2 separate regions of the Homo sapiens genome follow, and region 2 is linked to region 1. Evidence: fine-mapped expression QTL. A gene starts in region 1. The other region holds a variant in brackets. All regions are shown on one strand. Distances are from middle to middle.

Region 1 (8,000 bases):
GGGATATTTTTTTGGTTTGTTTGTTTGTTTGTTTTGAGACAAACAAATATGGCGAAACTCTATCTCTACAAAAAATACAAAATTTAGCCTGGCGTGGTGGCACGCATTTGCAGTCCCAGCTACTTGGGAGGCTGAGATGGGACAGTCACTTGAGTTCAGGAGGTTGAGGCTGCACTGAATTGTGATTGTAACACTGCACTCCAGCCTGGGTGACAGAGCAAGACTCTGTCTCAAAAACAACAATAACAAACACAAAACAAAACAAAAACAAAAAAAAAGAAACGTTTAGCAAACTTAGTTCTAAAATGCGCACAATCAACTGATTCAATGTCAAAGTCATCCTTAAATTCCACAATAATCTCTTGTTTTATGAGCTGTATAATTATCTGAACAATGTTTCAAAAGCACCTGAAACAACAAGGCAAAGGAGTTCTTTAATGTGTGAGAGAGCAGTGCAAACGATCAACTTTACTAACCCTAGAATAATTCTCATCTTGTTTTTATTTTAGCCTTCTATCTAGCTGAGAAGCACTATGCTCCTTGGAAGCTGCCTAGCATTCTTTAAAGAGAGACATTTTTCTGGCCAGGCACGGTGGCTCACACCTGTAATCCTAGCACTTTAGGAGGCCGAGGCAGGTGGATCGGTTGAGGCCAGGAGTCTGAGAACTGACTAGCCAACATGCTGAAAACCCATCTCTACTAAAAATACAAAAATGAGCCAGGTGTGGTGGCGCAAGCCTGATATCTCAGCTACTTGGGAGGCTGAGGCACAAGAATCACTTGAACCCAGGAGGTGGAGGTTGCAGTGAGCCAACATCTCACCAAAGAGATACATTTTTCTGACCTGGTTTTTCCAAATAGAAACAAGGCATTAGGTACTTTTCTTTGACAACCCTCTCAGTTTGTCCAGACCTGGTTGGTTTATCACTGGGGACTAGAATAAAATAAATTCCTTTTTAACTTCCCTTTGGCGAGAAGACCCCTCTTCCTGCAGGATTTCTCAAGTCCGTTCCATTGAGGGTTGCTGGCCCCTTCAAGTTTCCTTCATCCAGGCTCCTAAACGGAGAGATTGCATAATTCCCCTGTAAATTACAACTATCACCATATGGGGCTGTTCAGGGTCATAACACAGTTCTTCACCTGCTTTCTAGGAGCTTACACTTTGGGTGGGGATACAGACACCTAGAGCCAGAGTATGTCTGGCTCTTTCTAGGTGTCTGTACCCCTCTTTGTAGGGGTGGCAGGAGGAGCAGTGTGTGCAACTTGCTTAGGTTTAGGGGTAAGGAGGGGGTGGAGCAGCCTAGGCTAGCCAGATGTGAATTTTGGGTTTTTTTATGAGACAGAGTCTTGCTTTGTCAACCAGGCTGGAGTGTGGTGGTGTGATCTCGGCTCGCTGCAACCTCCGCCTCCCGGGTTCAAGTGATTCTCCTCCCTCAGCCTCTCGAGTAGCTGGGATTACAGGCATGCACCACCACGCCTGGCTAATTTTTGTATTTTTAGTAGAGATGGGGTTTCACCATCTCTACTGGTCGAGACCAGGCTGGTCTTGAACTCCTGACTTCAGGTGATTCACCCACCTCGGCCTCCCAAAGTGCTGAGATTACAAGCATAAGCCACTGTGCCTGGCCAGGAACTCAGTATTTAAGGGAAGAAAGCATGCAAGAGGAAAATAAGGAAGAAGGAGAGGCAGTGAGGCAAATGTTTTTTGTTTTGTTTTGTTTTGTTTTTCTTAAGACAGTGTCTCGCTCTGTCAGCAGGCTGGAGTGCAGTGGCGCAATCTCGGCTCACTGCAACCGCTGCCTCCCAGGTTCAAGCGATTCTTGTGCCTCAGCCTCCCAAGTAGCTGGTACTACAGGTGCGTGTCACCATGCCCAGCTAATATTTTGTATTTTTAGTAGAGACGGGGTTTCACAGTGTTAGCCAGGATAGTCTCAATCTCTTGACCTTGTGATCTGCCTGCCTCGGCCTCCCAAAGTGCTGGGATTACAGGCGTGAGCCACTGCACCCAGTCCAGCAAATGGTTATTTTATTTTATTTTTTGAAATAGAGTCTCAATCTGTTGCCCAGGCTGGAGTCCAGTGGGTCCATCTCGGCTCACTGCAATCTCCACCTCCTAGGCTCAAGTGATTCTCCTGCCTCAGCCTCCCAAGTAGCTGAGATTACAGGTGGGCACCACCACACCCAGCTAATTTTTGTATTTTTAGTAAAGATGGGGTTTTGCCATGTTGGCCAGGCTGGTCTTGAACTCCTGGCCTCAAGTGATCCACTCGCTTCCCAAAGTGCTGCGATTACAGGCATGAGCCACTGCACACCCTGCTGCACATTGTTACTTTTTTGTGAGTTTCTCATTAGTGTTCAGTAAATCTACATTTTATGTAAGATACAATAAACATTTGAAAAGAGGGAGTGGAGGAAAAAGTCAGTTATGCATCTGTCTCAGGATAGGTGGAGGGATGATTCCTGGTCTCTTCCTTGTTCTATAATTGGGAAGATAAGCTTGTAATCAACATTGTCAGTATGAGATTTCACAGAACTCGGATTAGGGCTGGTTTATAGGGGGAATGTTTATGCTGAAAGATTCAGAGGCTAATGAGGAATTTCCTGGCAAGCAATTTGTGAGGAAGACCATCTGGGGAGGTATATGCCTTTTGCCATTGTAGGAGCCTGGCTTATGTATGAGGCTATGACACAGGGTTGTGGAATTACAGCTATCTGGGAACAAAAAGGAAGGGAGTTTTGACTCACTTCCCAAGCATAAATTTCCTCGGCATGCCTCTACCATACCCAGCGAATTTTGTTTCCATGTTTTGTTGAAACAAGGTGTCACCATGTTGCCAAGGCTGGTCTCAAACTCCTGGGTTCAAGTGATCCTCCAACCTTGGCCTCCCAAAGTGCTAGGATTACAGGCGTGAGTCACCATGCCTGGCCTTGTGGAGTTATCTTCTTTCTTTCTTTCTTTCTTTCTTTTTTTTTTTTTTTTGAGATGGAGTCTCACTTTGTCTTGCCCGGGCTGGAGTGCAGTGGCGCGATCGCAGCTCACTGCAGCTTCCACCTCCCGGGTTCAAGCAATTCTCCTGCCTCAGGCTCCTGAGTAGCTGGGATTACAGGCGCCTGCCACCACGCCTGGCTAATTTTTGTATTTTTAGTAGAGATGGGGTTTCACCATGTTGGCTAGGCTCGTCTCAAACTGCTGACCTCAAGTGATTGTCTGGCCTCGGTCTCCCAAAATGCTGGTATTACAGGTGTGAGCCACCATGCCTGGCCTTGTGGGGTTATTTTCGAAAGTCCTTGAGATAATTCCTATCTCAGACATGCAAGCATGAGACCTTCTCCTTGGTGTTCTCATGGCTCCAATTTGTTTGGACCTGACAATGTGATTTTGTCCTGGTATCTGCAACTTTCACAAGATGGAGCAACTAACTCAACACCAGATTCCACCCCTAATTATTCCTTCATTCACTCAAAAAGTATCTAGGCTCCAATGTGTCAGGCACCGTGTTGGTCACAGGGGATACCATGATGAACAAGAGAAGGAACCACAGGCTTTTGAATGGGAAACTAAAGCATGTGAAAAACACACGGAGAGCTGGGTGCGGTGGCTCATGCCTGTAATCCCAGTGCTTTGGGAGGCTGAGGATGGAGGATCTCTTCTGCCCGGGAGTTGGAGACCAGCCTGGACAACCTAGTGAGACCCCCGTCTCTATCAAAATAAAAACAAATAATAAAATTAGCTGGGTGCGGTGGGGTGCGCCTGTAGTCCCAGCTACTCGGGAGGCTGAACTGGGAGGATCACTTGAGCCCAGGAGTTTGAGGGTGCAGTGAGCTGACATCAGGCCACTGCACTCCAGCCTGGGCGACAGAGCGAGACCCTGTCTCAAACAAAACAAAACAAACCACCACCACCACCAGACATGAGGGCCAGTGCAGCTGAAGCCTGAAGATCAAGGGCTAGAAGAGGCCAGGCCGGGGCCAGATCAGGCAGGGCCTTGCAGGTTGTGGTTAGTTGTTTGGATTTTATTGTGAGGGAAATAACACGACATGTCATTCCTTCTGCAACAGCCTTAAGAACTAGGCGTTCTTATCCCAATTTCACAGACGAGGACGATCAAGTCGTTAATTTGTCAAAGGTCACCCGCAGGCGACAGGCGGGGACAGGGTCTGGGAAAACCCGCTAGGCACCGAGGCCCAGAGGGCGTCGGGCGTCCCCGCACCGAGTGCCGCCCGCCGCGACCCGGGAACTGCCTGCTCCCCGGACGCCAGGCCCGCCGCACGCCGCGGGGACACCGAACATGCGCCGCTCGCCTTACGGAAGCCGGGAAGGAAGGGGGCGGGGCCGAGGCTGGCGGGCGCGGGGAAAATGGCGGCGGCGGCGGCGGCGGCTGCAGCTACGAACGGGACCGGAGGAAGCAGCGGGATGGAGGTGGATGCAGCAGGTAACGGGCCGTGCGGGGGTGGCTTCCGGAGACCTCCTTCAGGGGTTCGTTGAGGCCTCCCTGTGCTCCCGGGAGAAGGGAGGAGGGCGGAGCAGCAACATCTTTCCCTGGGATAAGTTACGGGAGGAAAGTGTGGCCCGGGCTCCGCCGTCCCCCACTGCCATCTCCAGGGAAGAACGTGGGGCCCGGACTCTCACCCTCTCTCCTTTCCCTCCACCCTTAGTAGTCCCCAGCGTGATGGCCTGCGGAGTGACTGGGAGTGTTTCCGTCGCTCTCCATCCCCTTGTCATTCTCAACATCTCAGACCACTGGATCCGCATGCGCTCCCAGGAGGGGCGGCCTGTGCAGGGTGAGTGTTGGGCATAGACTCCAGTCTCTTCTCCTTGCTCACCTCCCCCAGGCAGTGGTCTTTTCCCCTTCCTCTACTGGAGCCAATTCCCCCTCCCCCAAATCATCGTTTCCCCAATACATGGTTCCCACTGATCTCAGACCCTCAGGTCATAGAAGTTTCTTTACCCTCACCTTTTCCATGTCATTCTCTTTCCCAGTGATTGGGGCTCTGATTGGCAAGCAGGAGGGCCGAAATATCGAGGTGATGAACTCCTTTGAGCTGCTGTCCCACACCGTGGAAGAGAAGATTATCATTGACAAGGAATATTATTACACCAAGGAGGAGCAGTGTGAGAGTGGAATAGATGTGGGGAAGAGGAGTGGGAGTTAAAAAAAAAATGTACAGGGTGGGGAAGATGGAGAGGGTTGGAAAGAAACAGGAGAGGAGACCAAGAACAGGGGAGAAAAAGTGAAGAGTAGCTGGAGAGATCTCAGAAAAAGAAAACGTTCAGAGTTCTTTCTCAAAAGAAAGCAAAGGATGAGAGGAGACAGGATAGAAGGGAGTAGTTATTCTAAACTGAGCCAGGATTTGAGGAGGGAGGAGAGAAGCTGGTGAAAATACACCAGGAGCTTCACATTGAGGAAGGATGGTTTAAAGAATTACTATGTCAGGCCGGGCTCAGTGACTCATGCCTCTAATCCCAGCACTTTGGGAGGCCGAGGTGGGTGGATCATGAGGTCAGGAGTTCAAGACCAGCCTGGCAAACATAGTGAAACCCCACCTCTACTAAAAATACAAAAATTAGTCTGGCATGGTGGTGCGTGCCTGTAGTCCCAGCTACGCGGGATGCTGAGGCAGGAGAATTGCTTGAACCTGGGAGGCGGAGGTTGTGGTGAGCTGAGATCATGCCACTGCACTCCAGCCTGGGCAACAGAGCGAGATTCCGTCTCAGAAAAAAAAAAAAAAAGAATTACTATATGTTCTGGCCCCTTCCCCTCTAGTTAAACAGGTGTTCAAGGAGCTGGAGTTTCTGGGTTGGTATACCACAGGGGGGCCACCTGACCCCTCGGACATCCACGTCCATAAGCAGGTATGCATGCTCACACCTGTGCATGCTGGGGCAGAGAATGGAGAATGAGGGGAAGGAGAAAGGTAGGGGGCACTGACTTCCTGTGCATTGTCCCTCTCTTCCAGGTGTGTGAGATCATCGAGAGCCCCCTCTTTCTGAAGTTGAACCCTATGACCAAGCACACAGATGTGAGTAATACTCCATGCCTACTCTGTCATGATTGTCGCTATACCTTTTACTGTGTGACACTCCTCTATTGGGGAATGCCAGATGCCACTTACCAGCTGTGACTCTGGCTTAGTCATTTAATCTCCAAACTGTGAAAGGAGGTAATCCCTACTTCATTGGTTTCTTGGGAAGATGAGAGGAAATGTGTAAAAGCAGCTAGCCCAAATGTTGGCATATAGTGTTCAGGTTTCTCCGTCTCCTTCACAGCTTCCTGTCAGCGTTTTTGAGTCTGTCATTGATATAATCAATGGAGAGGTAATACCCTACCCTTCAACCCTCAGATCCTGCTCTTGGCCTCTTTCCTGCTTTTGATTCTCCCTTTGTGGGTTACCTTGCCCTGTAGGCCACAATGCTGTTTGCTGAGCTGACCTACACTCTGGCCACAGAGGAAGCGGAACGCATTGGTGTAGACCACGTAGCCCGAATGACAGCAACAGGCAGTGGAGAGAACTCCACTGGTAATGGAGGGGATTCCTTGGAAGTGGGGTTGGAAGGTGTGGCCACATCCCGTCTCAACCTCCTCCTGTCCTCATCCCCTTGCAGTGGCTGAACACCTGATAGCACAGCACAGCGCCATCAAGATGCTGCACAGCCGCGTCAAGCTCATCTTGGAGTACGTCAAGGCCTCTGAAGCGGGTAGGACAGGGGCTTCCCTGGCATTCTTCCTCTCCCTCCTGGGGAAGTGACAGCATCCAAACTAATGTAGTCTCTTTTTGTGCCTTTAGGAGAGGTCCCCTTTAATCATGAGATCCTGCGGGAGGCCTATGCTCTGTGTCACTGTCTCCCGGTGCTCAGCACAGACAAGTTCAAGACAGATTTTTATGATGTGAGTGTAAAACCCGGATGGGGAGGCGGGGCTTATGCTGTCACTTTCACGTGCAGGACTGGGGACTGTTGTTCCCCGGGCATGCCACGAGGGATCCCGAGGAACTGGTCCTTTCTGTTCCCTCCCAGCAATGCAACGACGTGGGGCTCATGGCCTACCTCGGCACCATCACCAAAACGTGCAACACCATGAACCAGTTTGTGAACAAGTTCAATGTCCTCTACGACCGACAAGGCATCGGCAGGAGAATGCGCGGGCTCTTTTTCTGATGAGGGTACTTGAAGGGCTGATGGACAGGGGTCAGGCAACTATCCCAAAGGGGAGGGCACTACACTTCCTTGAGAGAAACCGCTGTCATTAATAAAAGGGGAGCAGCCCCTGAGCACCCCTGCTGGTGGCTCTGTCCTCTGTTAGGCACCACACTGGTTGGTCAACTTGGATGTTCATCGAGGCTCATTCTGGCCTTGCTCAGAAGCCCTTCTGATGCTCTTCAGTGAGGGAGGCACTACCATTTGAAGTGACCCCATGTCAGTCACATGGACTGGTCTTTAGCAAAGTCCAAGGCTGCCTGCTTCCACCTAAGTGGTCTCTGTTCTACACTTTAATGTCACCCTCTACATCATCTTACCTAGCCCACCCAACCTTATAAACATGATAATTGACTACTTTCCTGAGCTAAATTAACTTGTTTTTCACATACGCAAAAAAGAAGGGATAGTAAGCAGATTTTTATTAGAAAGAAGTCCAAGCCTTGATCCTGTGGGCACTGTGAATTACCAGGAGGGAGAGTTTCTCAATGACCGTTTACTACATATTTTGGAGAGGCAGCTAGGAAGTGGTCTAAAGGTTGGGATTGCTGTATGTGATCACTTGTGCTGATTTTCATCACCCGCTAACCAGAGCTTTAGAGTGGGAGTTGGGAACTAAGTAATGACCTGTCTGCTAGAAAAGGGGAAAAACCAAGAGACCCTGCATTTCATACTGGCGCCATATCCCCAGAGCCTGACTTGCACACAGGCAGTATAAGACCAAATAAGGGAGTCGGGGGGCTCAAAAAGTGGAGCCCCATCTTAAGTATCTCCAAACAGCAGGGACCGCTTAGTCCTTGCCGCA
Region 2 (11,748 bases), 31 kb after region 1:
CCCAAAATCCTAAGGACGGGGCCCTGGGTGACATGGACCCAATGTAGAGCTGGACAGAAGGGCCGGGTCACCTGTGCGATCTCTTTGATGCGGTAGCTGACCTCATCCGTTAGCAGCTGGCAGGTCTCCTCCTGAATCTGGGCGATGCCCATGGATTCAGCCACCACCTTCATGGACTCCGAGGGCAGCACAGTGTTGCTAAGCTTCAGCTTCTTCTCCTCAGCCATTCTGGAGTCCCTCTTCTCCTCCCTGGAAGGATGAAGCCCCCGGTGGAGAGACGGAGACCCTGGCAGAGGAACGGGGCAGGCAGAAGAAAAAGAAACGTGAGACACAGGGAGAGGGCCAACAAAGGGAGGACAGTGGAGACAGGGGAGGAACTCCGAGTGTCTTATGTCCATCCCCACGTGAGTCAGCCCTGAGGTGTAACAGAGAAAGATACAAATCTGGGCTGGGGCCAGGTTCAGTGGCTCACGCCTGTAATCCCACCAGCACTTTGGGAGGACGAGGCGGGCGGATCACTTGAGGTCAGGAATTCGAGACCAGCCTGGCCAACATGGAGAAACCCCATCTCTACTAAAAATACAAAAATTAGCAGGGCGTGGTAGTGCACACCTGTAATCCCAGCTACTAGGGAGACTAAGGCACGAGAATCACTTGAAACCAGAGGGCAGAGGTTGCAGTGAGCCGAGATCACGCCACTGCACTCCAGCCAGGGTGACTCCGTCTCAGGAAAAAAAAAAAAAAAATCTGGACTGGGCCTAGTGGCTCATGCCTGTAATTCCAACACTCTGGGAGCCCAAGGTAGGAGGATCGCTTGAGCCCAGCAGTTCACGACCAGCCTGGACAACACAGTGAGACCCCATCTGTACAAAAAATACAAAAATTAGCTGGGTATGCAGGCACAGGGCTGTTGTTCTAGCTACTCAGGAGGCAGAGGTGGGAAAACTGATAGAGCCCAGGAGCTCCTAGGCTCAAGCAATCCTCACACCTCAGCCTCCCAAGTAGCTGGGACTATAGGTGTGTACCACTACACACAGCCAATTTTTTGCAGGGGCAGGGGCAGAGACAGAGTCTCACTATGTTGTCCAGGCTGGTCTTGAACTGCTGGGCTCACGCAGTCCTCCTGCTTCGGCCTCCCAAAGTGTTGGAATTACAGGCCTGAGCCACCAGGCCCAGCCCAGATTTTTATCTTTTTCTGTTACACCTCAGGGCTTCAATCCCACCACTTTGAAGTTTTGGGCTCAAGCAATCCTCCAGCGTTGGCCTCTCAAAGTGTTGGAATTAAAGGCGTGAGCCGAAGTGTCTGGCCCAGGCTCAGCTTTCCTTATCTTCATAGCAATGCCATCCATCCAGACACTTGTTCTTTATCTGAGCCTTCACATCAAATCCACCAGGTAGGCCAGGTGCGGTGGCTCACGTCTGTAATTCCAGCAATTTGGGAGGCCAAGGTGGGTGGATCACTTCAGGTCAGGAGTTCGAGACCAGCCTGAGCAACATGGTAAAACCCTTTCTCTACTAAAAATACAAAAATTAGCTGGGCATGGTGGCGCGTGCCTGTAATCCCAGCTACTTGGGAGGCTGAGGCAGGAGAATCACTTGAGCCTCGGCAGTAGAGTTTGCAGTGAGTTGAGATTGCGCCATTGCACTCCAGCCTCAGTGACAGATGGACTCTGTCTCAAAAAAAAAAAAAAGGTAAAAAAATAAATCCGGTCGGGCGCGTTGGCTCACACCTGTAATCCCAGCACTTTGGGAGGCCGAGGCGGACGGATCACCAGGTCAAGAGATGGAGACCATCCTGGCCAACATGGTGAAATCCCATCTCTACTAAAAATACAAAAACTAGCTTGGCGTGGTGGCACGCACCTGTAGTCCCAGCTACTCGGGAGGCTGAGGCAAGAGAATCACTTGAACCTGGGAAGTGGAGGTTGCAGTGAGCCAAGATCGTGCCACTGGACTCCAGCCTGGCGACAGAGCGAGACTCTGTCTCAAAAATCAATCAATCCACCAGGTAGTCCAACCTGACTCCTCTGCTCCCACTGCTTGGCCCAGGTCACCATCATCTATCCACTGGGTAACTCCAAAAACCTCCTAACAATGTCAACCGGAGTCTACCCTTGCCTTTCTCTACATCTATTCCTAACGTTGCAGCCAAAATGCTTCTGTCAAACTGTAAAGCAGATTGTCATTTCTTTGCTCAAACCCTCATAATGGCTCTCCACTTGCCATAAAGTAAAACCTGAAATCCTTATAATGGGCAGGTGCAGTGGCTCAGCTCATGCCTGTAATCTGTGCACTTTGGGAGGGTGAGGTGGGAAGACTGCTTGGGCTTAGGAATTCCTGACCACCCTGGGCAACATAGCAAAACCCCATCTCAGGCCAGGCACAGTGGCTCACGCCTGTAATCCTAGCACTTTGGGAGACGAAGGTGGGCGGATCACTTGAGGGCAGGAGTTCAAGACCAGCCTGGCCAACATGGTGAAACCCTATCTCTACTAAAAATAAAAAAATTAGATGGGCATGGTGGCGGGCACCTGTAATCACAGCTACTCGGGAGGCTGAGGCAGAAGAATCACTCGAACCCGGGAGGCGGAGGTTGCAGTGAGCAAAGATCTGTGTCATTGCACTCCAGCCTGGGCAACAAAGCAAGACTTCTTCTCAAAAACAACAACAACAACAACAAAAAAAACAGACGAAATCCTTATAATGTCCTACAAAGCCCTTCAAAATTACCTTCTCCCCATTATATCTCTGAACGCCCTTCCTTCTTCCACTTTGATCCAGACACATACATTCCTTCTGGCTGCTCCTTAAACTTGCCAGGTATGTACTTGCTTAATAGCCTTTGCTGCATTCCCTCTGCCTGGAATGTTCTTCCCAAATATCTAATTGGCTGCCTACCCTGACCACCCTATTTAACTCTGCACTCTGCCCTCAGAGTGGGGGCAGCCCACTTTTTCTTTTCCATAGCATTTAACATCTTTTGGGCATGGCGCAGTGGCTCACGCCTGTAATCCCAACACTTTGGGAGGCCGAGGTGGGCAGATCACGAGGTCAAGAGATCGAGACCATCCTGGCCAACATGGTTAAACCCCATCTCTACTAAAAATACAAAAATTAGCTGGGCGTGGTGATGTGCACCTGTAGTCCCAGATACTCGGGAGGCTGAGGCAGGAGAATTGCTTGAACCCAGGAGGTGGAGGTTGCAGTGAGTAGAGGTTGTGCCACTGCACTCCAGCCTGGCAACAGAGTGAGACCCCGTCTCCGTCCACCATCTAGACAGGGCTCTTTTTTTTTTTTTTTTTTTTTGAGCTAGAGTTTCACTCTTGTTGTCCAGGCTGGAGAGCAATGGCGCGATCTTGGCTCACTGCAACCTCCGCCTCCCAGATTCAAGCAATTCTCCTGTCTCAGCCTCCTGCGTAGCTGGGATTACAGGCATGCGCCACCACACCTGGCTAATTTTTGTATTTTTAGTAGAGATGGGGTTTCACCATGTTGCTCAGGCTGGTCTTGAACTCCTGACCTCAGGTGTTCCACCCACCCTGGCCTCCCAAAGTGCTGGGATTACAGGCGTGAGCCACTGTGCCCGGCCGACAGAGCTCTTTATTATGTTCACTGATGTATTCCAGGAGCCCAGCCTGGGACATCATAAATATTTGTGAAGTAAATGAATTAGTTGTAAGGCTTAGAGATATTGGTGCTCAGTAAATACTTGGTATCACTATTATTAATAGGTCATAGGCCCAAGCTTTGAGCCTACACTGTAGTTAAAAGCAAACTGGGCCGGCCGTGGTGGCTCACGCCTGTAATCCCAGCACTTTGGGAGGCCGAGGCGGGCGGATCACTAGGTCAGGAGATTGAGACCATCCTGGCTAACAAGGTGAAACCTCGTCTCTACTAAAAAATAGAAAAAATTAGCCAGGCATGGTGGCAGGCACCTATAGTCCCTGCTACTCGGGAGGCTGCTGAGGCAGGAGAATGGCGTGAGCCCGGGAGGCGGAGCTTGCAGTGAGCCGAGATCGCACCACTGCACTCCAGCCTGGGCAACAGAGCCAGACTCTGTCTCAAAAAAAAAAAAAAAACAAAAAAAGCAAAGTGGAGCCAGGTGCAGTGGCTCACGCCTGTAATTTGGGAGGCCAAGGCGGGAAGATCACCTGAGGTTAGGAGTTCGAGACCACCCTGGCCAACATGGTGAAACCCTGTCTTTTTGTAAAAACACAAAAATTAACCAGACATGGTGGCGGGCGCCTGTAGTCCCAGCTATCTGGGAGGCTGAGGTGGGAGAACCGCTTGAACCAGGAAGCGGAGGTTGCAGTGAACCGAGATCGTGCCACTGCACTCCAGCCTGGGCGATAGAGAGAGACTCCATCTCAAAAAAAAAAAAAAAGCAAATTGGAGCCAAGAGAGGTAACTCACCCCAGTAATCCCAGCACTTTGGAAGGCAGAGGTGGGGGGATTGTTTGAGGCCAGGAGTTTGAGACAGCCTGGTCAACATAGTGAGACCCCCATTTCTGCAAAAATTAAAAAATTAGACGGACCTGGTGGTGTGAACCTGTCATCCCAGCTACTTAGGAGGCTGAGGCAGGAGGATCGCTTGAACTGAGGAGTTGGAGGCTGCAGTGAGCCAAGATGGTGCCACTGCACAACAGCCTGGGTAACAGACGGAAACCCTGTCTCAAAAAAAAAACAAAAAAAAATTAAAGTGGCACACTTGCAGTTGGACATTAGGAAGATTAACATATCAATACTGCTTAGGAGTAGTACAGGTAGGGTGGGGCCGTGCTGGAAGGATGGGAAGAGGGAGGCCGAAAAACAAATTGGTTCTTTTCAAACCATCCCTGATCTCCTCCCCGACTTTTATAAGTCTTATCTATAGGGAACACAACTATTCGAGACATACTCTGTGCCTGGCGCCGGGTTTACAAGAGGGGGTCGTGTCCCACTTCCCTGGCGAACTCCTACGAATCCTTCAATACCCGGCGGTACCCTCTGCCAGTAAAGGCTCATAAAACACGCTACAGTCACAGGATCTCCTCAGATCAGTGGAGGCGGCAGGAAGGCGTCCCAGGGAAGGGTTAACTTAAGCGAGATCCCAGCAGAGAAGCAGGTCGAAGATCCCCGGGCAGCGCGAAAGGAGGTTCAGAGAGCCCACCCCATCTCCTGCAACATCTCTCCAATGCAGGCACACACACGGGGTCCCCACGAGCACAGACACACAACCAACCGTCCTCTTTCCAGTCCCCACAAGGGACCTTCAAAGGGTCTCCTCCGGGGTACCACTCAGACCCGCCCCCGCCACCCGAGCGCGGGGAGCAGGAAAACTCTAGCGGCAGCCGAGACGCTGCTCACCCGGCGCTCGGCGCCATCTTGGCCCCGCCCCCTCGTGGGAGCAGGTCCTGGCAGAGCCTAAGAGCAAGTCACTGCCCCTTCCCCGTACCAGAATAAGTCCTCTAGGCTCGCAGAATGAAATTATATTTTAAAAGTTTGTTTCTACATCTATATATAAGGAGCACTCCCTCTTGGTGTAATTACTGCAATTTATTCCTTCACTACCCGGCTGCCAGGACCTTCAAGAGGCGCCACAAAACGGAGGCAGGGAAACCCGTAGCAACGAGGCCCCACCCTTGTTGGGCTGATCCTGCGCATGCGCCGACCTTCCTCGGCTGGATTTAAGGTTGCCGCTAGCCGCCTGGGAATTTAAGGGACCCACACTACCTTCCCGAAGTTGAAGGCAAGCGGTGATTGTTTGTAGACGGCGCTTTGTCATGGGACCTGTGCGGTTGGGAATATTGCTTTTCCTTTTTTTGGCCGTGCACGAGGCTTGGGCTGGGATGTTGAAGGAGGAGGACGATGACACAGAACGCTTGCCCAGCAAATGCGAAGGTATTTGAAGGGGGTAGCCCCTATAGGCATCGCCCGGCCACACCTCCTTCTTCTAGGCCGGACATCCTAGCCTGTATTGGGTGGGTCACCCGACCTCCTTGAAGGCTTGAGGGAGGTTCTGGTGGAGCTTGGCTGAATTTGGATGGGGTCAAGGAAGCGAACGTGTAGTGCCACCTCAAACTGCATCCAGAGAGAGCCTGCATTTTTTTGGCTGGCTTGGAACCCCCCGCCCGCCAATGGATTGTGGGAATTGTAGTTCAGGGACCATCGGCCCGGGACTGCCAACTTTTAGAGCATCTTCAGTGAGTGTTTACCTCATGTCACCAGACCTTAATCTGCAGAGGCTGCAGGAGCCGGGTGTGAGGCTCAGGCCTTGTGGACATCCGCTGCCCTACCCTAGCATAGACGCTCCCAAATTACAGGCCCCACACCCCGCTGAGGGGGTTTGAGGGTGAGTAATTCAGCCTTTGAAGCTCATAAACAAAAGGAAGCCACACAACTAGGAGAGTGTCCCCATCCGGTGAGACTTTGCAGACGGTGCGTACTATATGGATTTTTCAGCAAGCAGCGCCTTCCATAGCTGCACTAGCGTGGGGCCCAGTTGAGAAAGGGGGCTGGCCCTGATGCCCTAGTTTGCTGCCCTCCTGACTTTACGTTTCTTCCCTGGATTCCTTTTCTCTTCGCTTCACCCCCTCAACTGTATTCCAGTATCATGAAAGGCAGTCATGACAGTCTCATGACTTGGTCCTCATCTCTGTCTCCTTTCACCTCCGTGTGCCGCTCTTCTCCCCTGACCTGTCAATCTTTTTAAACAGACTTAATCACCTAATTGTATCAGTCCTTGCTTTAACACCTCTGCAGGCCTTCTATCAGAATACAGCCAACGGGCCTGGGCACAGTGGCTCACATCTGTAATCCCAGCACTTTGGAAGGCCAAGGTGGGAGGATCACTTGAGCCCATGAGTTCAGGCCCAGCTTCACCACAGCTTGTCATCCTTGGTTTATCTGTCCCAACTACACTGACAGAGACCTGTAGATAGAGATAATAGGTCTTATTGCTGTCTATATTGTTAGTATGCATACAGAAGGAGCTCAATAAATAACTGCAGGATAACAGTGAATACTTATACAGTGCTCACTATGTGCCAGCCTTTATATATGTTGATTTATTTAATCTTCATCACACTCCTATGAGGGACATACTATTATTATCCAATTGTATTAATTTTATATATATATATATATATATATATATTTTTTTTTTTTTTTTTTTTTTTTTTTTTTTTTTCTCTTTTCAGACAGCGTCTCATGCCGTTGCCCAGGCTGGAGTGCAGTGGTGCAATCTCGCTCACTGCAACCTCCGCCTCCCGGGTTCAAGCGATTCTCCTGCCTCAGCCTCCCAAGTAGCTGGGATTACAGGCGCCCGCCACCATGCCCAGCTAATTTTTGTATTTTTAGTAGAGACAAGGTTTCACTATGTTGGCCAGGATGGTCTCAATCTCTTGACCTCGTGATCCACCCACCTCAGCCTCCCAAAGTGTTGGGATTACAGGCATGAGTCACTGTGCTGGCCTATTTATTTTTAATGTATTTTACTTTTTTTAAGATGGAGTCTCCCTTTGTTGCCTGGGCTGGGGTGCAGTGGTGGGATCTCAGCTCACTGCAACCTCCACCTCCTGGGTTCGAGTGATTCTCCTGCCTCAGCTTCCCGAGTAGCTATTACAGGTGCGCACCACCACACCTGGCTAGTTTTTGTATTTTTAATAGAGATGGGGTTTCACCATGTGGGCCAGGCTGGTCTTGAACTCCTCAAGTGATCTGCCCGCCTCAGCCTCCCAAAGTGCTGGGATTACAGGTGTGAGCCACCACTCCTGGCCTATTATCCCATTATAAAGATGAAGAAACCGGCCGGGCGTGGTGGCTCAC[G/A]CCTGTAATCCCAGTACTTTGGGAGGCCAAGGCGGGCGGATCACAAGGTCAGCTGATCGAGACCATCCTGGCTAACACGGTGAAACCCTGTCTCTACTAAAAATACAAAAAATTAGCCGGGCGTGGTGGTGGGTGCCTGTAGTCCCAGCTACTCGGGAGACTGAGGCAGGAGAATGGCGTGAACCCAGGAGGCGGAGCTGGCAGTGAGCCGAGACTGCGCCACTGCACTACAGCCTGGGCGACAGAGCGAGAGTCCGTCTGAAAAAAAAAAAAAAAAAGATGAAGAAACCGAGGCACAGCAAGCAGGAAGATTGCCACACAGCTGCTAAATGGCTGAGCCAGGATTCCAACCCAGCCAGTCTGGCTCCATAGTCTGCACTTGTATGCTCTGCTGCCTCAGGTCATCTGCAGAATGAATGGCTGGTGTGTTTGTCTTTTACCTCCCCCCGGACGTTTCTCCTCCCCACCAGTGTGTAAGCTGCTGAGCACAGAGCTACAGGCGGAACTGAGTCGCACCGGTCGATCTCGAGAGGTGCTGGAGCTGGGGCAGGTGCTGGATACAGGCAAGAGGAAGAGACACGTGCCTTACAGCGTTTCGTGAGTCCTTCGTGCTCCTCCCCTTTCCAACCCCCAACGGAGCCCTGGGAGTTCCTACAGCATCCAGGGAATCTTTGTTTCCTCTCTTTCCACAGAGAGACAAGGCTGGAAGAGGCCTTAGAGAATTTATGTGAGCGGATCCTGGACTATAGTGTTCACGCTGAGCGCAAGGGCTCACTGAGATATGCCAAGGTCAGACCCTTCCCCAGGGCAGGACCCCACTTCTCAGATACAAAGATCTGTATCCCCTGAGGCCCTCCAGAGGTTATCTGCCCATCATCTCACCATCATGGAACTCACCCTTGAATCTCCAGTAGTTGACAAAACTGAAATGGCAGAAAGGGGAAGGGAGGGGTGGGGTGGTGAGCTGGGCTGATGCCAAATTCTTAATCTCTCAGGGTCAGAGTCAGACCATGGCAACACTGAAAGGCCTAGTGCAGAAGGGGGTGAAGGTGGATCTGGGGATCCCTCTGGAGCTTTGGGATGAGCCCAGCGTGGAGGTCACATACCTCAAGAAGCAGGTAGGATAAGACACTGCACCATCCAGGGAGGTGAGAAGGGAACCTGAGAGGGGAGCTAGGTTCTAGGGTTTGACTATAGGGGATGTCTACCCCTAAGCATGGGGAAGGGGCCAGAGTGAGGACTGTGCCATTGATTAAAGTGGGTCCAGGAGCGGTGGGGTGCGGTGGCTCACACCTGTAATCCCAGCAATTTGGGAGGCTGAGGCAGGTGGATCACCTGAGGTCATAAGTTCGAGACCAGCCTGGCCAACAAGGCAAAACCCCGTCTTTAATAAAAACACAAAAGTTAGCTGGGCGTGGTGGTGCACGCCTGTGATCCCAGCTACTTGGGAGGCTGAGGCAAGAGAATTGCTTGAATCCAGGAGGTGGAGGTTGCCATGAGCCAAGATCGCACCATTGCACTCCAGCCAGGGCGACAGAGCAAGACTCCATCTTAAAAAAAAAAACAAAAACAAAAACAAAAAAAAAGAAATCATAATGAGCCGGGTGGAGTGGCTCACAACTGTAATGCTAGCACTTAGTGAGTCTGAGGGAGAAGGACTGTTTGAGACCAGAGTTAGAGACCAGCTTGTGCAACATAAGAGACCCCCTTCTCTACAAATAATAATAATTTTAAAGAATTTTTTTTTTCAAGACGGAGTTTCACTCTTATTGCCCAGGCTGGAGTGCACCGGCACCATCTCGGCTCACCGCGACCTCCGCCTCCCGGGTTCAAGCCATTCTCCTGCTTCAGCCTCCCGAGTAGCTGGGATTACAGGCCCCTGCCACCACGCCCAGCTAATTTTTTGTAATTTTAGTAGAGACGGGGTTTCATCATGTTGGCCAGGCTGGTCGAACTCCTGACCTCAGGTGATCCACCCGCCTTGGCCTCCCAAAGTGCTGGGATTACAGGCATGAGCCATTGGGCCCTGCCTTAAGGAAAATTTTTAAAAAGTAATAATGGGCCAGGTGCGATGGCTCACGTATGTAATCCCAGCACTTTGGGAGGGCGAGACAGGCGGATCACGACATCAGGGGTTCAAGACCAGCCGGGCCATCATAGTGAAACCCTGTCTCTACTAAAAATACAAGAATTAGCCGGGCGTGGTGGTGTGGTGGCATGCATCTGTAGTCCCAGCTACTCAGGAAGCTGAGGCAGGAGAATCACTTGAACCCGGGAGGCGGAGGTTGCAGTGAGCTGAGATCCCACCACTGCAGTCCAGCCTGGGTGACAGAGCGAGACTCCATCTCAAAAAAAAAAAAAAGTAACAATGGTTGCTAATGATATCCACCATCACTTATTGAGCACCTACTGTGTCCCAGACTCTGGACCAGATACTTTGCATCTGTAGCCTCATTTTACCCTTAACAGCCTGATGTGGTAGGTGCAATTACCATACATATTTTACAGGCAAGGAGCTGAGACTCAAGAGTTTAATAATCTACTTGGCAGAATAGGTGCTGGTAAATGTTTGTTGAATGAATGAGGATTGCACATCTAGTAGGCCAAACTTAGCTTCCTGGCTACCTGCCTCTCCAAAATCAGTCAGGTTGAGCAGGGAGAGAAGACAGGCGGGATCCCAAATCCCTCCAGAGCAGATACTCTTCTGGCCCTTCTACTTGACCAGTGTGAGACCATGTTGGAGGAGTTTGAAGACATTGTGGGAGACTGGTACTTCCACCATCAGGAGCAGCCCCTACAAAATTTTCTCTGTGAAGGTCATGTGCTCCCAGCTGCTGAAACTGGTAAGCGTAAGGGTTGAACTCCTCTCCTGCCAAGCCATAGCCTCCCCTGCCTCCAGGACTAATATCTAAATTGTTTTCTGTCATCCGATCTAGCATGTCTACAGGAAACTTGGACTGGAAAGGAGATCACAGATGGGGAAGAGAAAACAGAAGGGGAGGAAGAGCAGGAGGAGGAGGAGGAAGAGGAGGAAGAGGAAGGGGGAGACAAGATGACCAAGACAGGAAGCCACCCCAAACTTGACCGAGAAGATCTTTGACCCTTGCCTTTGAGCCCCCAGGAGGGGAAGGGATCATGGAGAGCCCTCTAAAGCCTGCACTCTCCCTGCTCCACAGCTTTCAGGGTGTGTTTATGAGTGACTCCACCCAAGCTTGTAGCTGTTCTCTCCCATCTAACCTCAGGCAAGATCCTGGTGAAACAGCATGACATGGCTTCTGGGGTGGAGGGTGGGGGTGGAGGTCCTGCTCCTAGAGATGAACTCTATCCAGCCCCTTAATTGGCAGGTGTATGTGCTGACAGTACTGAAAGCTTTCCTCTTTAACTGATCCCACCCCCACCCAAAAGTCAGCAGTGGCACTGGAGCTGTGGGCTTTGGGGAAGTCACTTAGCTCCTTAAGGTCTGTTTTTAGACCCTTCCAAGGAAGAGGCCAGAACGGACATTCTCTGCGATCTATATACATTGCCTGTATCCAGGAGGCTACACACCAGCAAACCGTGAAGGAGAATGGGACACTGGGTCATGGCCTGGAGTTGCTGATAATTTAGGTGGGATAGATACTTGGTCTACTTAAGCTCAATGTAACCCAGAGCCCACCATATAGTTTTATAGGTGCTCAATTTTCTATATCGCTATTAAACTTTTTTCTTTTTTTCTAAAAACTAGCTGGGCCCAAAGTTTCAAACAACAGCCGGGCACACATAGCTAGCTGGTCGATGAGGCAGCACCCAGAATGGCCGCTGTCTTGTTAAGCTCAAGCTCCAGCCTGAGCAACATAGTGAAACCCCAATTCTACACACACACACACACACAAAGAAGACTGCAGGGCTGGTGGTGCAGCGCCTGTAGTCCCAGTTACTGCAGAGGTGGAGATGGGAGGATCA

What was found.
Region 2: its variant is fine-mapped to the expression of COPS6 in whole blood (INTERVAL, PIP above 0.99).

The regions. Positions count from the first base shown.
Region 1 is chr7:100,084,634-100,092,633 of GRCh38, forward strand. COPS6 (COP9 signalosome subunit 6) reads left to right here and starts at 4,336. Exons shown (of 10, transcript NM_006833.5): 1 at 4,336-4,433; 2 at 4,657-4,782; 3 at 4,982-5,113; 4 at 5,766-5,854; 5 at 5,959-6,021; 6 at 6,269-6,316; 7 at 6,405-6,519; 8 at 6,605-6,697; 9 at 6,787-6,887; 10 at 7,016-7,554. The coding sequence starts at 4,358. The coding sequence ends at 7,156. RefSeq lists enhancers at 2,456-3,149, 4,536-5,227, 4,734-5,933, 6,793-7,087 and a silencer at 4,196-4,385.
Region 2 is chr7:100,113,983-100,125,730 of GRCh38, forward strand. It overlaps TAF6 (TATA-box binding protein associated factor 6), which reads right to left and starts at 5,376. Exons shown (of 15, transcript NM_139315.3): 1 at 5,222-5,376; 2 at 72-286. The coding sequence starts at 227. It overlaps CNPY4 (canopy FGF signaling regulator 4), which reads left to right and starts at 5,652. Exons shown (of 6, transcript NM_152755.2): 1 at 5,652-5,880; 2 at 8,277-8,403; 3 at 8,499-8,595; 4 at 8,802-8,924; 5 at 10,532-10,649; 6 at 10,743-11,526. The coding sequence starts at 5,763. The coding sequence ends at 10,906. RefSeq lists enhancers at 5,329-5,478, 5,689-5,908, 6,279-6,348, 11,555-11,748. The variant G/A (reference allele first, on the strand shown) is at 7,807.